2 separate regions of the Homo sapiens genome follow, and region 1 is linked to region 2. Evidence: fine-mapped expression QTL. A gene starts in region 2. The other region holds a variant in brackets. All regions are shown on one strand. Distances are between the middles of the regions. Region 1 holds the start of TTC12 (tetratricopeptide repeat domain 12). Region 2 holds the start of ANKK1 (ankyrin repeat and kinase domain containing 1).

The links.
Region 1: its variant is fine-mapped to the expression of ANKK1 in whole blood (TOPMed, PIP above 0.99). The same link has a PIP of 0.9 or more in blood mononuclear cells.

The regions. Positions count from the first base shown.
Region 1 is chr11:113,312,186-113,321,785 of GRCh38, forward strand. It overlaps TTC12 (tetratricopeptide repeat domain 12), which reads left to right and starts at 2,398. Exons shown (of 22, transcript NM_017868.4): 1 at 2,398-2,433; 2 at 4,058-4,130. The coding sequence starts at 4,073. TTC12-DT (TTC12 divergent transcript) reads right to left here and starts at 2,271. Exons shown (of 5, transcript NR_199709.1): 1 at 2,145-2,271. RefSeq lists silencers at 2,209-2,458, 2,482-2,776, 2,669-2,768. The variant A/G (reference allele first, on the strand shown) is at 5,042.
Region 2 is chr11:113,382,888-113,392,487 of GRCh38, forward strand. It overlaps ANKK1 (ankyrin repeat and kinase domain containing 1), which reads left to right and starts at 4,892. Exons shown (of 8, transcript NM_178510.2): 1 at 4,892-5,182. The coding sequence starts at 4,998.

The sequences.
Region 1 (9,600 bases), 71 kb before region 2:
CTCCAGAGCCCCAGCTCTTAACCACTTAGCATGTGATGACTATTTGTCAAGTGCACCCCAGGGGCCTTCCGCTGCATCTAGCACACTACAGGCCACTCACACTAGCTGAACAAATGTGTGAGTGAATGGTTAGGTGGTACAGTCAGTTGTGGGCAGATACCTCTGGAACCTAGGAAAGGAGTTTAGTGAAAAGAGTAGTAGGATAGGAAGTAAGTGATTTGGAACTATTGGCCTCAATGTGATAAGAAACACCCTGAGGTTGGGGACCATAGGCATATAGCCTTCATGTATTCAAGGCCTCACAGGCCTAAGAGGAAAATGGGGTGATACTAATGGTGATAACCAAAACATCACTGGTTCTTGTCTCCATCAATTCCCACAGGCTGGAAGGTCACTGTGAAGTACCCTATATCTTTCTGAGGATCCCTATGGTGTGCCTAGCCTGTGCTCATCAACGTCCTTGCTCCTGCCAGGCACCTACACTGTCTGCTACTTCTCCTGAGGCACCTCATTCCCTTGGGACAGCCACTGTGACCATGTCCTGCTGGGATCCCCAGGTCTCCTGCTGCAGTTGATGAGCCAAAAGACTCACTCTGCTGATGCTGTACCCATTCAGCTGCCAAGAGGAGCAGAACATCCGTGGCCCCTTTGTGTTATACTGCATTAGAGGGGTACCCAAGCAGGATGGTATGTGTACCAATGCATCATAGAGACTTCAGCCAAACAGCTCTTCTGTTCTCTACAGGACACAGGCATGCATCCTATGGGGCCTAGGCCACAAGAGAGTCAACAGGCTGTACTTGGAATCAACACTAGAGCTAGCTGGCCATGCCTGGATCCCTCTCCCCTCTGGCGAATTCCATCTCTAGGGGCTCCTTGTTCCCTGCCAAACAGGTTTCCATAAAGCACTCATTTGCCAAGAAGTTCCGGGTGTTTCTGACCGTGAACTTAAGCTCAAGTTTCCCCTAAACCTGCTTTTTTTCCATTGGTAACCCTGCACATAATACTCTGAGATTTTGTTTAGAAAAACAGACTGAAATTTCTTTAGGGCTGTGTGCATGTATTTGGGGCATGAATGAATGTGCCTATTAGCTCATTCTGTTCTAAACCCTATGATTCCCCGGATGTCACGTGCCACCTGTTCCTACTGACTAGGTACCAGGCACTGAAACCACCATTGCAAAATTATAACTGAGATGGTGAAAGGGATCTGACCTAACCGACTCCATCTTGCTTCTCATCTCCAAGCTGTCTTTGTTCATTCCTAGGCATAGGCCAAACTAACTTTGGGGGGAACTTAGTTTATAGTGTAGCTTTGAAACAAAGACAATACCAGCCCTTTCCCAAACAAACCCCCTTCTTGCCCAGGAACTAGACTGCCTTTTCAGGACTAACAAATTAGCCACAAAATTAGAAATTATGGTTTAGGAGTCATGCAGCTAGAGGCTGCAAGATTCTAAACCTCAAATTGCTCCTGGGGATAACATCAACTATTGTAAAACCTAAGATCAGTGCTTAAGATATTTCACAGACACTGCACTCGATGGATCAGCTGGCACCACCCAGATGAATAAACTGGCTCATCTGGTCTTATGACCCCCACCTGGCAACTGACTCAGCACAAGAGGACAGCTTTGACTCCCTGTGAGTTCATCTCCTAGCCTACCAATCAGCACTCCCGACTCACTGACCCCTACCCACCAAATTATCCTTAAAAACTCTGATCCCTGAAAGCTAGGGAGACTGATTTGAGTAATAATAAAACTCCGGTCTCCCTCACAGCCAGCTTTGTGTGAATTACTCTTTCTCTATTGCAATTCCCCTGTCTTGATAAATCGACTCTGTTTAGGCAGTGAGCAAGGTGAACCTATTGGGCGGTTACAGCACTTTAACCATAAACCTTATGAGAAAGTGCCATTTCTCCATTTCACAGGTGAGAAAACTGAGGATTAAAAAGGTTACTCAAATAACTTTCCTAAGGATAAATGTGTGAGTCTTCTAACTCACACATTTATCAATGAACAAAACCGGATTCACAAGTACACTGGAGACTTTACATTTTGGGCAAGGATATTAAGCTAACGGGAGTGAGACAACCCTTCTTCAGTAGAAAAAAGGCGAGCAGCAGGCGCTGCTTTAGTTACCAGCACTTTGCTTCCTCCGTCTCCCCGCGCCAGGCATCGGGCATCCCAACCTCGACTTTGGCCTTCAACTTGGCGCGCTCCGGAGCTAGAGCTCTGCGGTAGCGAATCTGATCGCGTGTCCATGCCCGCCCCCTGTCCCGCCTCCTGGCTTTTGACCCCGTCCTTGGTCCCGCCCCGGGCCCTGGCTCCTGGCCCCGCCCTTGGTCCCGCCCCGGGCCCCTGGCTCCTGGCCCCGCCCCAGCCCAGGCAGGTCACTGCGCCATTTCCTGTCCAAAGCTGGGCGAATCAGGTCGGTGCCGCGGGGTACCCCGGAATCCCCCCTGGGAGCTGGTCCTGCACTGGCCTTCAGAGCCGAGCAGAGGACGCTGCTTTGGGCCCCAGAGCATGGGAAGGTCTTGGCTGCGGTCTGGGACGGCTGCGGTCTGGGACCTGCATGGAGGGCCCGGGACTTGCGGACGCCTGGGAGCGGTTGCTGGGCAACAGTGCGTGCGGCCTGGCCTCTTTGCGCCCGGCGGGCAGCGCGCGTCTGGGGCAGGCTCCGCGCGGGGCTCGGGCACAGGTCCCCGCTGCCGCAGCCCTACCGAGTGAAGCACTGAGCGCGGCGCCGCTTCGCCATCACCTGGCTCTGGCCCTCTCACCCTAGCGTAGGGGGGCACTGGCCAGGCAGTGAGGACCCTGAGATCCATGCCCTGGGAGACAGAGGTTGTCTCCTGTCCATGCACCCGCGCGCCTGCCTTCTAACCTTCATACCGTTGGGCAGATTAATTCACTGGACTAGGCCTCTGTTCCGTGGGAGTTGAAAAGATTTGACCTGGAAGAAACCCTAGCGATTATTCAGTTAAGCCGCAACCCCACCCCCTGTTTTATATAGGTAAGGGTGCTTCACGGTGAGGACTCGTCGCGTGCCTGGTGCTTTACATCAGTCCCCAGAATAGTCCTCGTAGTTTCTCTCTTACTGTTCCCATAGTATGGGTGAGGACTCTGAGGCTCGGAGAGGTTGTGAATTTAGCCAGAATCACACAGCTTGTAACTGGTGGAGATGAGGACACTGAGACTCGATTAAATCACTCGTAGTTTGTTCGTGGCAGATTACGTGTTAGAAGCGTGTTACACTACTATGAAACCTGGCCATAAATGAGAATCACCTGGAAAGTGTTTAAAATCTATATTCGTGTCTGGGCAATGTCCCGGGTTTACTGACTTGAAATCTCGGGCTACGGCTGAGGAAGCTGTATATTTAACAATCTTCCCGATGATTTTTATGATCTGTGGATGAACCACTGAGTACTGCTGGGTACACCACGGGGCCTTCTCGCACAAAAACAACTGTAAAATAATATCTGAGGTACCTAGAGCAGAAGAGACGCTGGTGAGCATGGTAACATTATGTTCTAATCCCTTCAGTCAATTTGTACCCTTTCTTCACTCTTCAGAAACAAGCCAAAGGCAGATTTTAAACAAGTATGGACATTTAGATGCAAATTGCCCCAAGTTTGTTACCTGTCACACATCCACATTTAAGCTTCTGACTAGACCAGCCTGTCATGATCAAAGTCAGGTGTTAGTGTATTTCTCTATCCTTGGCAACCTGTCATCTGCTCTCTTCTCATCTCCATGCCAGGTCCCTAAATCGCCGGGGTTGATGTTGGCTTTGGAAGAACTATTTGCAGAGCGTTTTCTGCACTGGAAGGAGGGCTGGAAGCTTTCTGGAAGCATTGCCGCACGTAAATGAGTGCCTCTTGGCCTAAAACAGCAGTTGGAATGAAAGGGATCACCCTGCTGTTATTCATTGACATAAACAAAACTGTCATAAAAATAATCACTTGGCTCTTAGTTTTAGAAGGCTAATAAGCCTGACCGTTCTGTTTAGTGCTTTATTATTATTAATTTCACCATTATGCTGCATCCCTTAGGGATTCCGGTTCACAATGGATGCTGATAAAGAGAAAGATTTGCAGAAATTTCTTAAAAATGTGGATGAAATCTGTAAGTACTAGTAAATCATAAATTAATTTCTGCTTTAGAGAAGTGGAGTAGATAAATGATTGCTCTAAGTTCCTGGGTGGCTTGACAGGTTTATAACTCTTAGGAAAAAAATGTAATTGAAATTAAAGAGAAGGGTATTGAGAAACAAGTTATAGCCTCAGGGCTGTATTTTCTGGCTGTTAATTGGTATCAGAGAAACTGTTAACATTCTGATAGGAATTCAGGCTGACGGTTTTCTTCCATATTTTGTATCCTTCTATGTGGAATCCAGTCAAAACCAGCTGCTGTTTCCCCATTGACAATGAACCCAGCTGTTCCCTTCAAGGGTCAAGAACCTCATTGATCAGTGTGAGATTCCTCCCGTTTTAGAGTAGAGCCATTTCTGTTTTAGAGCTGCAGAGGCAAAATCAAATGGCTTTCCTTTAGGATCCATCAAATTACATGGATGGTTTATGATCATCATTCCCTTCTCTCTCTCTAGACAAGAAAGTCCTTTCCCAAGTTCAGGCAGGTTGGATCTCAAAGAAATGTACTCTGATCCCACAGATCACATTCAGGAATTTCCAAACCTGTCAGTCCCTGTTCAGGGAGCTTGCTTGAGTATAGAAACAAACAAACCAACAAGCAAACAGACCTTACATAGTAAATACAGGCAATATGCTGAAATTGCTGCTTGTAGCAGATTGTATGGGTTCAAGGAATAAAGTGGTTTTAAAGCTAGCTTGGGTGACATCGTAAATGATACATGAATAATGCTTATCCCTGAATGCTGTTCCATGGAGCTCTGGCCTTGGCCCACTGCCACCTTTCTCTTCAGCTGGTCTAAACATGTAGCTTTACCTGCCACCTGTTTGTTCATGACCCCCACATCTACATGGACACTTAGCCTTCTTTTCTGAGCCTCTGCCTCT[A/G]TGGTACTGTCATACCTACTGTATCCCACAAATAAACTTAAATGTGTCCAAAATTGAGGCATCATCTCTTTCCCTCCCCTTTGCCCTCCCCCTCCCAAATAAAACCTGCTTCTCCTACCCTCACCTTCATCCTGGTCTCAGTTGGTGACACCACCATCCAGAAATTTACAGGTCATCTGGGACTCCTCCCAACTCATAACCCTGCATCCAATTAGCCATCTAGTTTGGTTGGAGAGCCATCCTCTCCAGCCCTCCCTTTGTTCTGGTTCTTCTCACCCAGACTATGTCAACAACCCCCTGATTGTTTTTCCTGTCTCCAGGCTTATACTTCCCACAGAGTAATGTATCTAAAATGCAAATCTGACCCAGACACTTCTCTGCTTGGATTCCTTTTGCAGTCATAATAAATCCCAAGCTCTCATCAGGACTTAAGTCCTCCCATGACCTTGTCCTTACCTCTCTCATATCTCCCTACCTCACGCTTGAGCAGCAATAAACTGCTGATACTTCGCCACACATACTCTGTGTTTCACACTCTGCACTGGATCTTTGCCATTCCCACTGCCTCTTCATCTTTTTTTTTAACCTGGCTAACTTATGCATACTCAAAGTTCATTCAGGTATCATGTATACCAGTGCTGTCCAATAGAGCTTTCTGTGATGATGAAAATGTTCCATAATCCTCACTGTCCACTATGGTAGCAACTAGCCACATGATTATTGAGCATTTGAAATATGGCTTATAACTCCACCCTGTGGTCTAGTGCTTAGGGTTCTGTGTGTTTGTGGCTGCAGCCCAGGTTTGAAATGCGGCTTGTTTCAATTAATTTAAATTTATGTAGCCACATGTGTATAGATTCTGTACATTTACTTCTTGGGCTCTTGCTATGTGTTGAGTGTTGGTAAGGCCTAGAGAATACAGTCAAAGAATTATTCTTTTCATGGTATTAATAGTCCAGTGGAGAAAACAGATATTAAACAGTAATTTCAAGTATGCAATATGAGACACAGAGAATTACAAAGTGTAGGGATCTAACCCAGCTTTGGGAGGTTGTATTAGTCGGCTAGGGCTGCTGTAACAAAATAGACTGGCTGGCTTAAATGACAAAACTTTATTTTCTTAGAGTTCTGGAGTTTAGAAATCTAAGACCAGGGTGTGAGCAGGTTTGGTTTCTTCTGAGGCCTCTCTCCTTGGCTTGCAGATGGGCACCTTCCCGCTGTGCCCTCACATGGTCATCTCTCTGTACGTGCATATATTTGGTGTTTCTCTTCTTACAAGGACACTAGTCATATTGGATTAGGGCAATGATTAGTTACTTCTTTAAAGGCCCTATCTACAAATACAGTCATACCAGGAGTTATAGCTTCAACATGTGAATTTTTGGGGGGGATGCAATTTAGTCCATAACAGAAATTAAATAAAGTTTTCCAGAAGAAGTGAGATTTAGGCAAAATGTGAAGAGTGAGTCGGAGTTGGTCACTGGGAAAATGACAGGGGAGTGTCCTGGGTGGGAAGTAAGGAGGTAGGAAAGCTAAGAGTGAAGAAAGAGTGTGGTGCTTTTGAGGAACTAAAAGAATAAAAAGCCCCAAATGTCTGGAAAGAAGAGATCAAGGAGAGAAGAGTCCCATCTGAATATGGAGGGGCCAGATTAGGAAAGACCTTGGAAACCATGGTAAGGAATTTGTGTTTACCGAGAGCAGTAAATCAATTCCATCTAATTTATGTAATGACTCTTCCCCCAAGGAGGTGGAGCATCTCTACCCCTTAAATGTGAGATACATTTAGTGACTTGCTTCCAAAGAGTACAGTATGGAAAGGGAGGGAAGAAAGTAACTTTACAGTGGAAAAGGTTGGCAAACACAATTTCAGATAGATGATCAAGGTTAACCTCCTGATAAATCACACTGATGGCATGCATCCCTGATACGCCATAATGTGCCATGGTCTTTTTCCCCAAATCCTGTAACTCCAGTCTAACCGTGAGAAAAATACCAGATAAACCCAAATTGCAAGGTATTCTATGCAAACTCATAGAATGTCAAGGTCATCAAAACTGTCAAGGTCATCAAAATAAGGAAAGGGTGAGAAATTGTCGCAGCCTAGAGAAGCCTAAGGAGACATGACTAAATGTCGTGTAGTGTTCTGGATGGGATCCTGGAATAGGAAAAGGGCATTAGGGAGAAAAAACAATGAAATTAGAATAAAGTGTGCAGTTGAGTTAATTTAAAAAAAAGTTAATTAAAAGACATGAAAGAAGAGCTAAATAAATGGAGACGTATTTAATCCTAGGAAGACTTATTTGGTAAAAATGTCAATTTTTAAAATATTCTATGCAGTAAATACAATTTAGATCAAAACCCGCAAAGTAGTATGTACTAAAATTCAGCAAGCTGATTCCAAAGTTTACGTGGAAGAGCAAAGGACCAAGAAGAGCCAAGAAAACTCTGCAGGAAAAAAAAAAAAAGCAGGACAACTTTCCCTACCTGACATTCAAGATTTATTATAAAGCCATAGTAATCAATGCATGGAGGTTTTCGTGCTGGAAAGGACAATCAGGGGAAAGGAATGAAGAGCCTGGAGAAGATTTGCACACATAACAGGGATGATGAGACACATTGCTGGCAGGGACTTCTCAACAAATAATGCTCCTGCCCTACGTGAAAGTCAACTCTAGGTGAATTACATACCTTAGTAAGAAAAAAACTTTAAAACTTTTATAAGACACCATAAGAGAGTATATTTATAACCTTACTGACACAAAAGACCTAAATTGTAAAGGAAAAGATGGTATATTTAACACACTAAAATTAAAAAGAAAATCTCTTCAACAACATATTCCATAAAAACAAATGAAAAGACAAAGAATACCCAAGGGGAAGATGTTTGGAAATACATGTAACCAGTCCAGAATATATACAACTGATACGGGTAGGAGATGGGAATAGTGGATAGAAGAGGGTGGTTCCCTGGCAAAGACCCCACCCTCAAGCCGGGAGATCTGCAGCGCTAAGTGGAAACAGGCATTTCTGTTTTCGTGCCCAAAAAGTTGCCTTTTGGCCTGCCATGCTCCCCTATCCTGTGCCCATGTAAACTCTGAACCCCAGGCTCCAGAAGCAGACGAGCAGGTGAGATGAGGACACAAGCAGACAAATGGCAGAACGACACAGTAGAGAAAAGAGGAGGAATGTCTGAACGCCGAGAGGAGTTTGGCTGGGAGCAGCCAGAGGGGAGTTGGGCCACTGGATGGCCAGGCTCCAGGGGAAGATCATCTTTCCCCTCCATTCCCCCTTCCAGCTCCCCATCCATCCCACTGAAAGCCACCTCCACCACTCAGTAAAACCCCACATTCATCCTTTAGTCCTGTGTGTGACCTGATTCTTCCGGGGATGCTGGGCAAGAGCTCGGGATACAAAAAGCTGTCACTTCCCTCTGCCCTTGTGAAAAGGCAGATGTCCGTCAAGCTGGTTAACAATCAAGTCGTCCGCAGATGGCAGGGCTAAAAGGACACGCTGTAACACGTGCCCAACTGGGCTCCTGCACTTGTCCGTCTGCGTTCTCCCCCTCCCCTCAGGGGTTTGAGCAGTGGTGGTGACTAAACAGGCAAGCCACACCCCTGTCGCATGTCCTGCGAGGGGGATCAGAGAACTCCCCTGTTTCACAATCAAATCAACCAGGCATGGTGGTGTGTGCCTGTAGTCTTTGCTACTCAGGAGGCTGAAGCAGGAGGATCGCTTGAGCCCAGGGGTTCAAATCGAGCCTGGACAACATAGCAAGACCATCTCTTAAAAAAAAAAGAATTTTTTAAAAAAGAAATTATATTAACTAATAAGAAAGAGACAATGACCCAATAGAAAATTGGCCAAGGATAGGAGTAGGCTCTTCGTAGAAATCCAAATGGGTGCAAATCAATAAGAAGATGCTCAATTCCAATCAAATTCAGCGAAATGCAAATTAAAACAATGAGATACCATTCCCATCCATTACATTGACAACAATTAAAAAGTTTAACCCAGCAAGTGATGATAAGAATGTAGAAGAATGGGAACTTCCTCTTGTACTCTTTTGTAGGAGTAAAAATTGGTACAGCCATATCCTGAAGGATATGTAACATGTGCACAAGGAAATATGTACATACAGGTATTCAATTCAGCATTTATTTACTTTAGAAAAAACTGAAAAACCACCTGGCTATCAATAAGAGAATGGATTAACTATGGTATATATAATGGTTTAAATGAATCAACTGGAACCATGTGTATCAAGAACACATCTCTAAAGCATCTTAAGAGAAAAAAGTAGGTTGCAAATGAATGCACATTTTATACAACTATTTTAAAAAATTGTTTAAATATTACATACACAAATATTCTGGTAGATTGCAAGAATGGTTACAAATTCCTTTCTTCCCATCAAGAGTGGAGCCTATTTCTCTGCCACTTGAATCTGGGTTGGCCATGTGTGTTGCTTTGGCCAAAAGGATGTTTGCAAACATGACACAAGCAGAGGCTTGAAAAGTGCATTTGAATTAGGGCTTGCACTCATACCACTCATGAGAAAG
Region 2 (9,600 bases):
AGGGGGCTTTATTTGTATTTTTTAAATGTTCTGCTTGGAGATAATTACAGATAAGCACACAATTTTAAGAACTTATGCAGAGATACCCTCACCCAGTTTCCCCCAAAGGTAACATCTTATGTCACTATAGCACAACATTACAACCAGGAAATCAGTGATACAATCCATAGTCCTTACACAGGTGCCGTCAGTTTTACATGCACTCATTTGTGTGTGTGTGTGCATCTGTGTGTGCATTTAATTTGATGGAATTTTGTCACATGCATTGATTCATGTGGCCACCACCACAGTTAAGATACAGAATAGTTTCATCACAAGGTTCCTTTGCACTAACCTTTTACAGCTACACCCACCTGCCTCTCCCCCAATCTCACCTCTGACAACCACTAATCTGTTCTCCATCTCTATAATTTTGTCATTTTAAGAATGCAATATAAATGGAGTCATACAGTATGTAACCTTTTATGATTGGCTTTGTTCACTCAATAGAATTCTCTGGGGCCTCATCCAAGTGGCTGTGTATATCAGTAGTTGCTGAGTCCTATTCCATAATACAGCACTATGGTGTGTTTAGCCATTCATTGGTTGAAGGACATCTGAGCGGTTTCCAGATTTTAGCTATTGCAAATAAAGCTGCAATGAGCATTCATATACAGATTTTTGTGTGAACACTGTTTTCATTTCTCTGGGATAGATTCCCAAGAGTGCAATTGCTGGGTTGTATGGTAATCATATGTTTAGTCTTATAAGAAATGGCCAAATTCTTTTCTAGAATTGCCATACCATTTTACATTTCCACCAGCGTATGAGTGATCCCATTACTCTACATCCTCATCAGCATTTGGCGTTGCCACTATCTTTTCAGTTTTATTTTTAGCCATTCTGATAGGTAGTTAGTGATATCTTACTTGCATTGCTTAGTGGCTCATGATATTAAACATTTTTTCAAGAACTTATTTGTCATCTGTATATTCTCTTCAGAGAAATGTATTTTCCCATTTTCTAATTTGATGCTTTTTTAGCATTGAGTTTGAAGACCTCCTTATATACTCTATGAACCAGCACTTTGTCAAATATGTGCTTTACAAACATTTTCTCCCCATCTGCACTCTTCTCTTCACCTTCACCAGGTCTTTCACTGAGTGAGAGTTTTTCATTTTGATGAGGTTCAGTTTATCAATTTTCCCTTTTATGGATTGTGCCTGTGGGATTCGGCCTAAGAACTTTTCATCTAATCCTAGGTCCAGAATATTTTCTCCTTTTTTTTTCCTAAAATTTTTATAAGTTTACATTTAATATTTAAGTCCATGATTCATTTTGAGTTAATTTTTCAGGTGTGAAGTATCAGCTGGTTCATATTTTTTGCCTAGGAGTATTCCTAGTATATACCTAAGGAATGTAACCTTTAAAAATATACCTAGTATTTAGATATATTTTATGGATGATAATCATAATAACCATTCCAAAAGGTTGCTGTAAGAATTATAACCTTTAAAAATATCCTAGGTATATTAAACTAATATGATATTATATTGTATTTTTATGTTATATTAGTATAATATTATACTAATATACTAGGTATATTTTTAAAGGTTATAATTCTTATAGCAATGTTTTGGAATGGTTATTATGATTATCATCTATTTTACAGATGGAGAAACCCAGAAAGATTTGATAATGTGACCAAGGTTAAACAAATGCTAAGTGATAGAAAGAAGCCAGGGTTTAAATGCGGGTCTGACTGACTGACTCACTCCCACATTTAAACCCTGTTCCTATTGCCTCATTCAATCCCTTTCACTCTGGGAGTCCTGCTTCCTGAACAGATGTTCCACTTTCCTGCATACATTCCTTTATCCTGACCAACCTCAGTACACAAGCTACCAGAGGCTGGGGCCTGCCAGAACCTGTCCAGGGTTCTCCGTGACATGTTTGCAGGGTGGAGAACAGGGGCAGACTGGGAAACTTCCCTATATGCAAATAGCTTGTCATTCCGGTTTGGGGAAAGGCTCACATCAGATTTCAGCATCTTCTAAAGTATTGCAGAGCTCCTGTACCAGCTCACTTGTCTGGGAGGAGCAGGCTAAAAATCTTAGGTTCCCCAAAGACAATCACACATACACACAAAATTCATTTAATAACTCCAAATCCAGAACACTTCCATCTTCAATCTGCCCAAACAAAATGCACTGATAGAGGTTAGTTGGAAGGACTCAGAGCATTTTGGGGTAAAACTTCTATAGCTAGAACCTGTTCCTTGCCCCTTCTGGTGGGTGGGGGTCATAATTGGACTATAACCACTTCATTATCCATTCCCATTTGTAGGTAGATATGGGTAAAGGTAGAGTTTCCCTCCCAACCCCCCAGCTCTCTCCCCTCCACACACTGGCTGCTGACTTCCCAACCAGCCAGGACCTAGGGACTTCTGCACTCAGACCACTGGAAAGAAACCAGCAGCCTCTGAGTTGACTTTACTCTTTTGCAAATCCCTATACCTCACCCCACTTTTAATGAGAGATCCAGGAGTTCTTTGCCTCTGTGACCTTATACTCAGAAAGGGTCCCTCCACTTACAACTTCTCCCAGAGCTTATCCAAAGACTACTAGGCCTTTGCCCTAGCCCATGTTAGACAGCTGTAAGGAGCAGGACAAGCCCAGTCAAATGATCCAGTCCCTCTGGGTCAATGAATGTATCTATTTTGACTGACTCCTCAGAAGCCTCAGGGGTGCTTGAACCCACAGCAGAGAGTTTCAACAGGTGGGTCAGCAGTAATACGCCCTGACCCTGCAGTTCCTCCACCTCCACCCCTGTGAGAAATTCAGAGGTATTTTGTTCGGGATTCTGGCAACATGCCTTGAGCCCTGGGTGTCCCCTCTTCTAGGAATGATGCTTTCTTCAGTATTCCTGTGACAGTCTCTGCAGGCAGACAATGGCAGCTTCTGGTTACTTCCTCTCCCTGGAGAGCCACTTCAGGTATAAGTGGATCAAGGGGAACTGCTGAAATGACTCAGGCCATTCACCCTTGGTATTTCCTCCAGGAGCTGAGATAGGTCTCGCTGAATGTCAAAGATCGGGCCTCAGTCAAACTTCCGCAGAGCTGGGTGGCTGGTCACCTTCCCAGTCTCCATGTTCACCCTCCCAGTAGAAGGTATGAAACATCCTCTTGACCTCCTGGTCTCCCTGATGACAATGTCCTTTATCACCTTCCAAACTTCTCTGGCAGAGGCTTTAAACTTGGGCAGGCAGGGCTACTCCAGAGACAATGGGTTCTGTTATGCCCTGTCTTGCTCCAGCCAAAGCAAGCTGGGGGCCTCCCTCTGACATATGTTTGGGGGATACGTCCTGCTCCTGATGCAGTTTCCATCATCTCCACCCTCTTCCAGGGAGCATGACTCTCTCTCTTCCTTTTTTGTATTCATAAAAGGCTACTCCCTGATCCTCCCCTGGCCAACCATTTCCATAGAAACTAAGAGACTTGAGTTTGAATATCAACTACCACTTACTAGCTATGTGTCCATTGATTACTTATTGTCTTGAAGCCAGTTTCCTCATCTGTGAATAGAAGATGTTGACCTCATAACATTGTTGCAAGATAAACAGGATAATATATGTAAAGCAATGCAGTAACTGAAATAGTCACTGATCCTGGAACAAAGTGAGTGTTCAATTAGTAGTGGCTATCACTAGTTTCTATGACAACTGTCTCCAGGCCCAATCTTTGATCCTTAATCTGCTTGCCAGAATTCATCCTGGAAGTTGCAGGTAAGTTGTTACAGAGGGAGCAAGTTCTCCAGCTTCCACAGGGAGTCTCTGTTTGCCTATCATGCCTACACTGTTCCCTGGGAGTCTGGTGGGCTTGTGGCATGGACGAGGGGCTCTGCAGGTTTGGGCTGAAGGCAAGGCACTTCCTTGTCTGGTAGGTAGGCTCCTCAAACCTAACAGTGATCACTCTGAGGGCTCCTTGTGGACTTACTCAGCTGTAGGCAAATAGTGGCTGACTCTGCACTCCGTGGCCACAGTTCCTCCAGGTATGCCTGTCTCTGGGCAATGGCCCACTTGGTCAGTGCCCCTGGGGAGACCTGTCTGTTCAAGCACTTGTCATTTTCCCTGCTCTGAGGGTCTCCAAGGTGAGAGGGCAATCCCATGGACCCAGGACCCAGGGGAACCTCCAAGCTCAGCACTGGTCAGGCTCCAGCTAGAGCCTCCTCTCATCCCTGGCAACAAACTGCCCCTAGTAACTGCGCCAAGGAGGCCACCTCCCCCGTGGCCACCCCGAGGCTGGGGTCCATCCCTCTGAGGTTGGATAGAGCGCAGCCCAGGAAGGGAGTCCCCTGCAGACAGGAGCCCAGCCTCCCCCGCAACTCTGTCCCTGCTGACCCCTCCTTGGTAACCTATAGCACACCAAGGCTGGCTAACAAACAAACAAACAAAACCCCAACAAGAACAAAGGAAACATGAAACCAGTCAGACCAACAGATTCAGACCAGAAAATCCCCATTAAAATTGTTTGAGCCCCATACTTGCTGGATAGGGGCAGGGGTCCAGGCCTGAATCCTTCATAAACCATAAAACCTTGAATGCACTGAAGGAATGCATAAACCGATTTCACTTAGCGCTGGGCCTAAATAAACTGGATCCAACTTCTCAGGCTGGACTTCTTCCAGCTTCGGGACACCTTCTCCCAGCATCCCTCCCTAGGGGGAACTGGGGAAAATCAAAGGCTGAGACAGGGGAAATGCGAGGGCTTCGGAGGGACATACCCTCTTCCCCAGGCCCAGGTCGCTCCATCCCTGCTGGGGCCTCAGGGCTCATGTCTGGGATTTCCCCACCTTTGCGGGGCAGGAGCGGCTCCTCTTGGGCGGGGAAGGAGGCAGGGCCGGCTCGTCTCCCCATTCCCCTCTCCCGGACCCGAGGAGCAGGAAGCGGCGGCTCCTTCGGCCACCCAGGCAGCAGCCACAGCGGGGAGTGCGCGGCGCGGGGACAGGAAGAGAGGGGCAATGGCTGCCGACCCCACCGAGCTGCGGCTGGGCAGCCTCCCCGTCTTCACCCGCGACGACTTCGAGGGCGACTGGCGCCTAGTGGCCAGCGGCGGCTTCAGCCAGGTGTTCCAGGCGCGGCACAGGCGCTGGCGGACGGAGTACGCCATCAAGTGCGCCCCCTGCCTTCCACCCGACGCCGCCAGGTACTGCCAGCCTCGCCCTCCCCTTTCTCGGAGGAGAAACTGAGGCCCGGCAAGCTTTGGGCCCAGGGAGCTTGCGAGGAAGGAGTGGGCTGAGTTTGGGGCTGAGGACTGTCCCCCGCGGTATTTCTGAATTCCACCCAGTAGCCTGAGCCTCCCAGGCACACCCATACCTGTCTCCCTAACCAAAATAGAGTTGGCACATAATACCTGTTTGTAGACTCAACAGAGGTCAAAGGCAAGCGGGAACTACCTACCAAAGACGCCTTTATCCCATCTGACCTTCCGAACTTGTCCTGCCTGCTTCCATCCTTCTCTCCAGCGCCTTCTTCCCCCGGTGTCCTGTGGCAATAACTGCTCTTGACCGCTCTCTGCCATCCTCCTACCCACCCCAGCTCTCAGGGCAGGGCTGAGCATCCTGGGAGGCTGTGGCACTTTGCTCAGATCTGCAGGGAATCATGTTCTCTCTTCCCACGGTGGCGGGAGGGAGGAGGCCCCTCCCAATCAGTGCAGGCTGAGGAGGTCAGGGGATGGAGACTGCCCGGCCTGATGGCCTGTCCAGGCCCTTGGAGGGTCAAGTCTGGAGTTCTCTCATCTCTGTTTTTGTTTTTGTCCCTTGCTGTCATGCGCACTACAGCGACGCCTTGACATGCCCCTATTTTTCTCTTCCTACCTCTTTCCTACGTTTCCATTATTCTCTGTCTTCCCACTGATTTGGAATCCAGTCTCATTCCCACTGGAGTTGCATATACTAGCTGTGTGCTTGCACCTTGCAGCCATGAAGAAGACACTCGGGATGTTAAACCTGAGCATGATAACCATGTCCTCCTCCCAAGGCTCTGGGACATCAATTAGAGAGTCCGGGACGGGGGTCTCTCTGACTGGCATCTGGCTTGGATGCTATCTGTGGTTCTCTAGGATTACCATGCAAACTCTTAAGATACAGCCTCAGGTGCCACACACTCAGTTCCCAGGCCTTCCCCCACCTTATGAGGAGAGGAAAAATAAGATCGCCTAAGGCCCACTCACCTTCCTCCCTCAACATCTGCCTGTTGGTTTTGGAGGAGGGTCAGAGTATGCTAGGATTTGTCTAAATCATTTATAGCCTTTTGAATATAGAACGAAAGGAAACAGATGGCAGTGACATGATTACACTGTGAGACATTGATGCTAACTCCTGCCACTTTCCCTTCCCAAGTTCTGGGAATTCCCTGGGTGGAGGGGGTAAGATAATTAATGGTAATTAAGACTTAGTATGTATGGATTACTATACTAGGAGCTTTACGTGCATTACTTTACTAGATCCTCTTTCCAGCTATTCATTCATTCATCCACTTGACAAATGCTTACTGCTCTTCTACTATGTGTCAGGCACTGTTCTACACCCTGGGATTAACGATGAATGCAACAGATGTGTCCTTTCTCTCCGGGAGATTGCAGCCTAGGGGGAGGAAGACATTAACCAGATAACCCCACATGTAAATGTAAATGTGCTACTGTGAGAAGCTTAAGAAGGGGAGATTTGTGGCTCTAGGAGAGCTCATTAACAGAAAGTTTGACTGATATCAGAAAAGGCTTCCTTGAAGAAGTTACACTACAGCTGAAATGTGAAGAATGAGTATAAGTTAAGTAGGTGAGGAGGAGAAAGTTTTCCAAGAACAGACAACAGAGTGTGCAAAGAATCTGTGGCAAGAGGGGCATGGTAAGTACAAAGATGGGAAAAGGCCATGATGGCTGGAGTTGGGAGAGTAAAAGAGCAGTGGAAAACCACTGAGCATTTACAACCAGGTAGCGGTGGTGACCATGGGAGGGATTAATCAGAATTGCAGTATGGAGAATGCATTGGGAGGGGTAGAGTGGATTCTGGTTAAGTTAGGAGATTGTTATCTTCATTCTGATGAGAGACGGATAATAGGGGCTAGAGTGGAGTGTTGGTAGTGGAGATAGGAAAGGAATGGGTCAAGCCATATTTAGAAGGTAAAAATCCACCCGACTTGGTGCTGGATTAGTCATGGGGAGGATCACGATGAGGAAGAGGGGTATTAAAGCTAACTTGATGTCTGGCTTGCCCAAAGGAATGGAGGATCCACTAAAATGTCCACTCCATGAGAGTGTCTGTTTTGGTCACAGCTCTGTCTCCTGTGCCTGGCACAGAGTTGGTGTTCAATAAATATTTATTGAATGGCAGTGTTGACAATTAATGGAGAGACTATGAAAAGAGGCCTAGACTTGGAGAGGAAGATCATGAGTTCAGCTTTGTACCTGTTGAGTTTCAGATGCCTTTAAACAACCAAGAAGAGTTGTCATGGACATCAGAGTAAAGGTTGGTGCTAACAATATTAAAACTTGGGAGTCATTTGTTATAAGTGGTCATTAAAACTAGGGCATCAGGCTGGGCCTGGTGGCTCACGCTTGTAATCCCAGCACTTTGAGAGGCCAAGGCTGGTGGATCACCTGAGGTCAGGCAAGACCAGCCTGACCAATATGGTGAAACTCCATCTCTACTAAAAATACATAAATTAGCTGGGCGTGGTGGTGGGCACCTGTAGTCCCAGCTACTCAGGAGGTTGAGATAGGAGAATTGCTTGAACCCAGGAGGCAGAGGTTGCAGTGAGCCAAGATCATGCCATTGCACTCCAGCCTGGGCAACAAAAGTGAGACTTGGTCTCAAAAAAAAAAAAAAACAAAGCAAAAAAAAGGCATGGAGGAGATGCATTCATTCCAAGCACTACGTGAAAAAAACAAAGTCCTTGCCCTCATGAAGCTTATAGTCTAAAGGAGGAAGACAAAATAAATAGCAAATGAATAATAAACTTTTTAGCTATAGCACTCATGACCACCTGACAGTTCTTGATTAAAATATCTAAGAAGGGTTGAGAAGTCTGATTTTCCAAGAAATGGGTTGGTCTAAAAATATTAATGCCAGGGCCCTCTGTGTATGGGGAATATAAGAGTTGGAATGGGGTTGCTTTTTTATGTAGACTTCTCTGTGAAATCCATACTAATTAGGTACCATTTGAGTAGAGATTTGAAGGAAATGAAGGGGTAATCCATGTGGCTCTGTTAGGGAGGAGTGTTCTAGGCAGAGAGAACAACAGGTGCAAAGGTCCTGAGGTGGGACCACACTGGGCATGGTGGAGGAACAGTGGGAAGCCCGTGTGCCAGGGGCACAATGAGAGGAGGGTGATTAGGAAAGGAGGTCAGCAAGCTATGCCTGGCATTGGGGACAAATCTTGTAGGACTTTCTCAGCCATGAAAGAACTTTGGCTTTTACTGTGAATGAGGAGAGCCATTGGAGAAGGGCAGTGACATGTTGTGACTTAGATTTTAAAATATGACTTTGGCTGCTGGGTTGAGAATAGATTGTGGAGAGGAAGCGGGAGAAACAGAGTCCAATTAGGAGGCTTGGGCTGAGATGCACCTTGGGGGAGAGGTGGTGAGAAGTGGTCAGCTTGTTGCTCGACAGTATTTTGAAGGTGGTGCTGGCAGGATTTGCGAAGACTTGGCTGTGGGAAGTGAGAGGAAGAAAGGAGTCGAAGATGACACCAGGGTCCTATTCTGAGGACTAGAAGGACAGAGGCCCCATTCACTGAAATGATGAAAACTAAAGGAAGAGCAGGTTTCAGGGGAAAATCAGGAGGTTAGCTTCAGACACATTTGGTATTGAATATCCAATTGGAGATGATGAGGTTGACTATAGAAAGATTATAGAGGGAGAAGAGCAGAGAAGAAGGGCTTGGACTAAGCCCCGTGGTCAAGTAACAGGATATGAGCCTGCAAAGAAAACAGAGAGGAAGTGACCAGACAAGTAGGAGAAAAGCAGGAGAATGTTGACACGTGGCTCAAGTAACGAAGTTTCAAGAAAAAGAGTCAGAGATCTGAACTATACACTGAGAACTGAAAATTATTGGTTAGATATAGCAACATAGAGGCTGTTGGTGACCTTAGCCACAGGTGTTCAGGGGAGTGCAGGTACCAGAAACTAGACAAAAGTGGGTGCAGCAAGATGATGAAGAGGAGAGACAGCAGTAAATGCTCTCAAGACTTCTGGGTAGGAAGCTATGAAAGAACTGTGCAAGGTAGTTACAATTATTCCCAGTTTTTAGTTTAGAAACTGAGGCCCAGAGGATTCCCTTGCCCAAGGTCATACAGATAATAACGGGTGAAACTGGGATTTGAAATCAGGGCAGTGTGATTCCCACATCCCATGCTTTTTTCCATGCCATGGCAGATGTCATTGGTTCCTGTGAACCCAAGAGGATGAGAGAAGACAGATTAAAAATATCACAGAGGTGGAGAAGGGATCTCTGGCACAAGTGAACAAGAATAGGAGAAACCTACACTAGCCAACATGTCCAGATGCCAGGAAGAGCATGTGGTTTTTCCTGAAGGTTGGGGCTCTCCAGCTGGCTTCCCAGGGA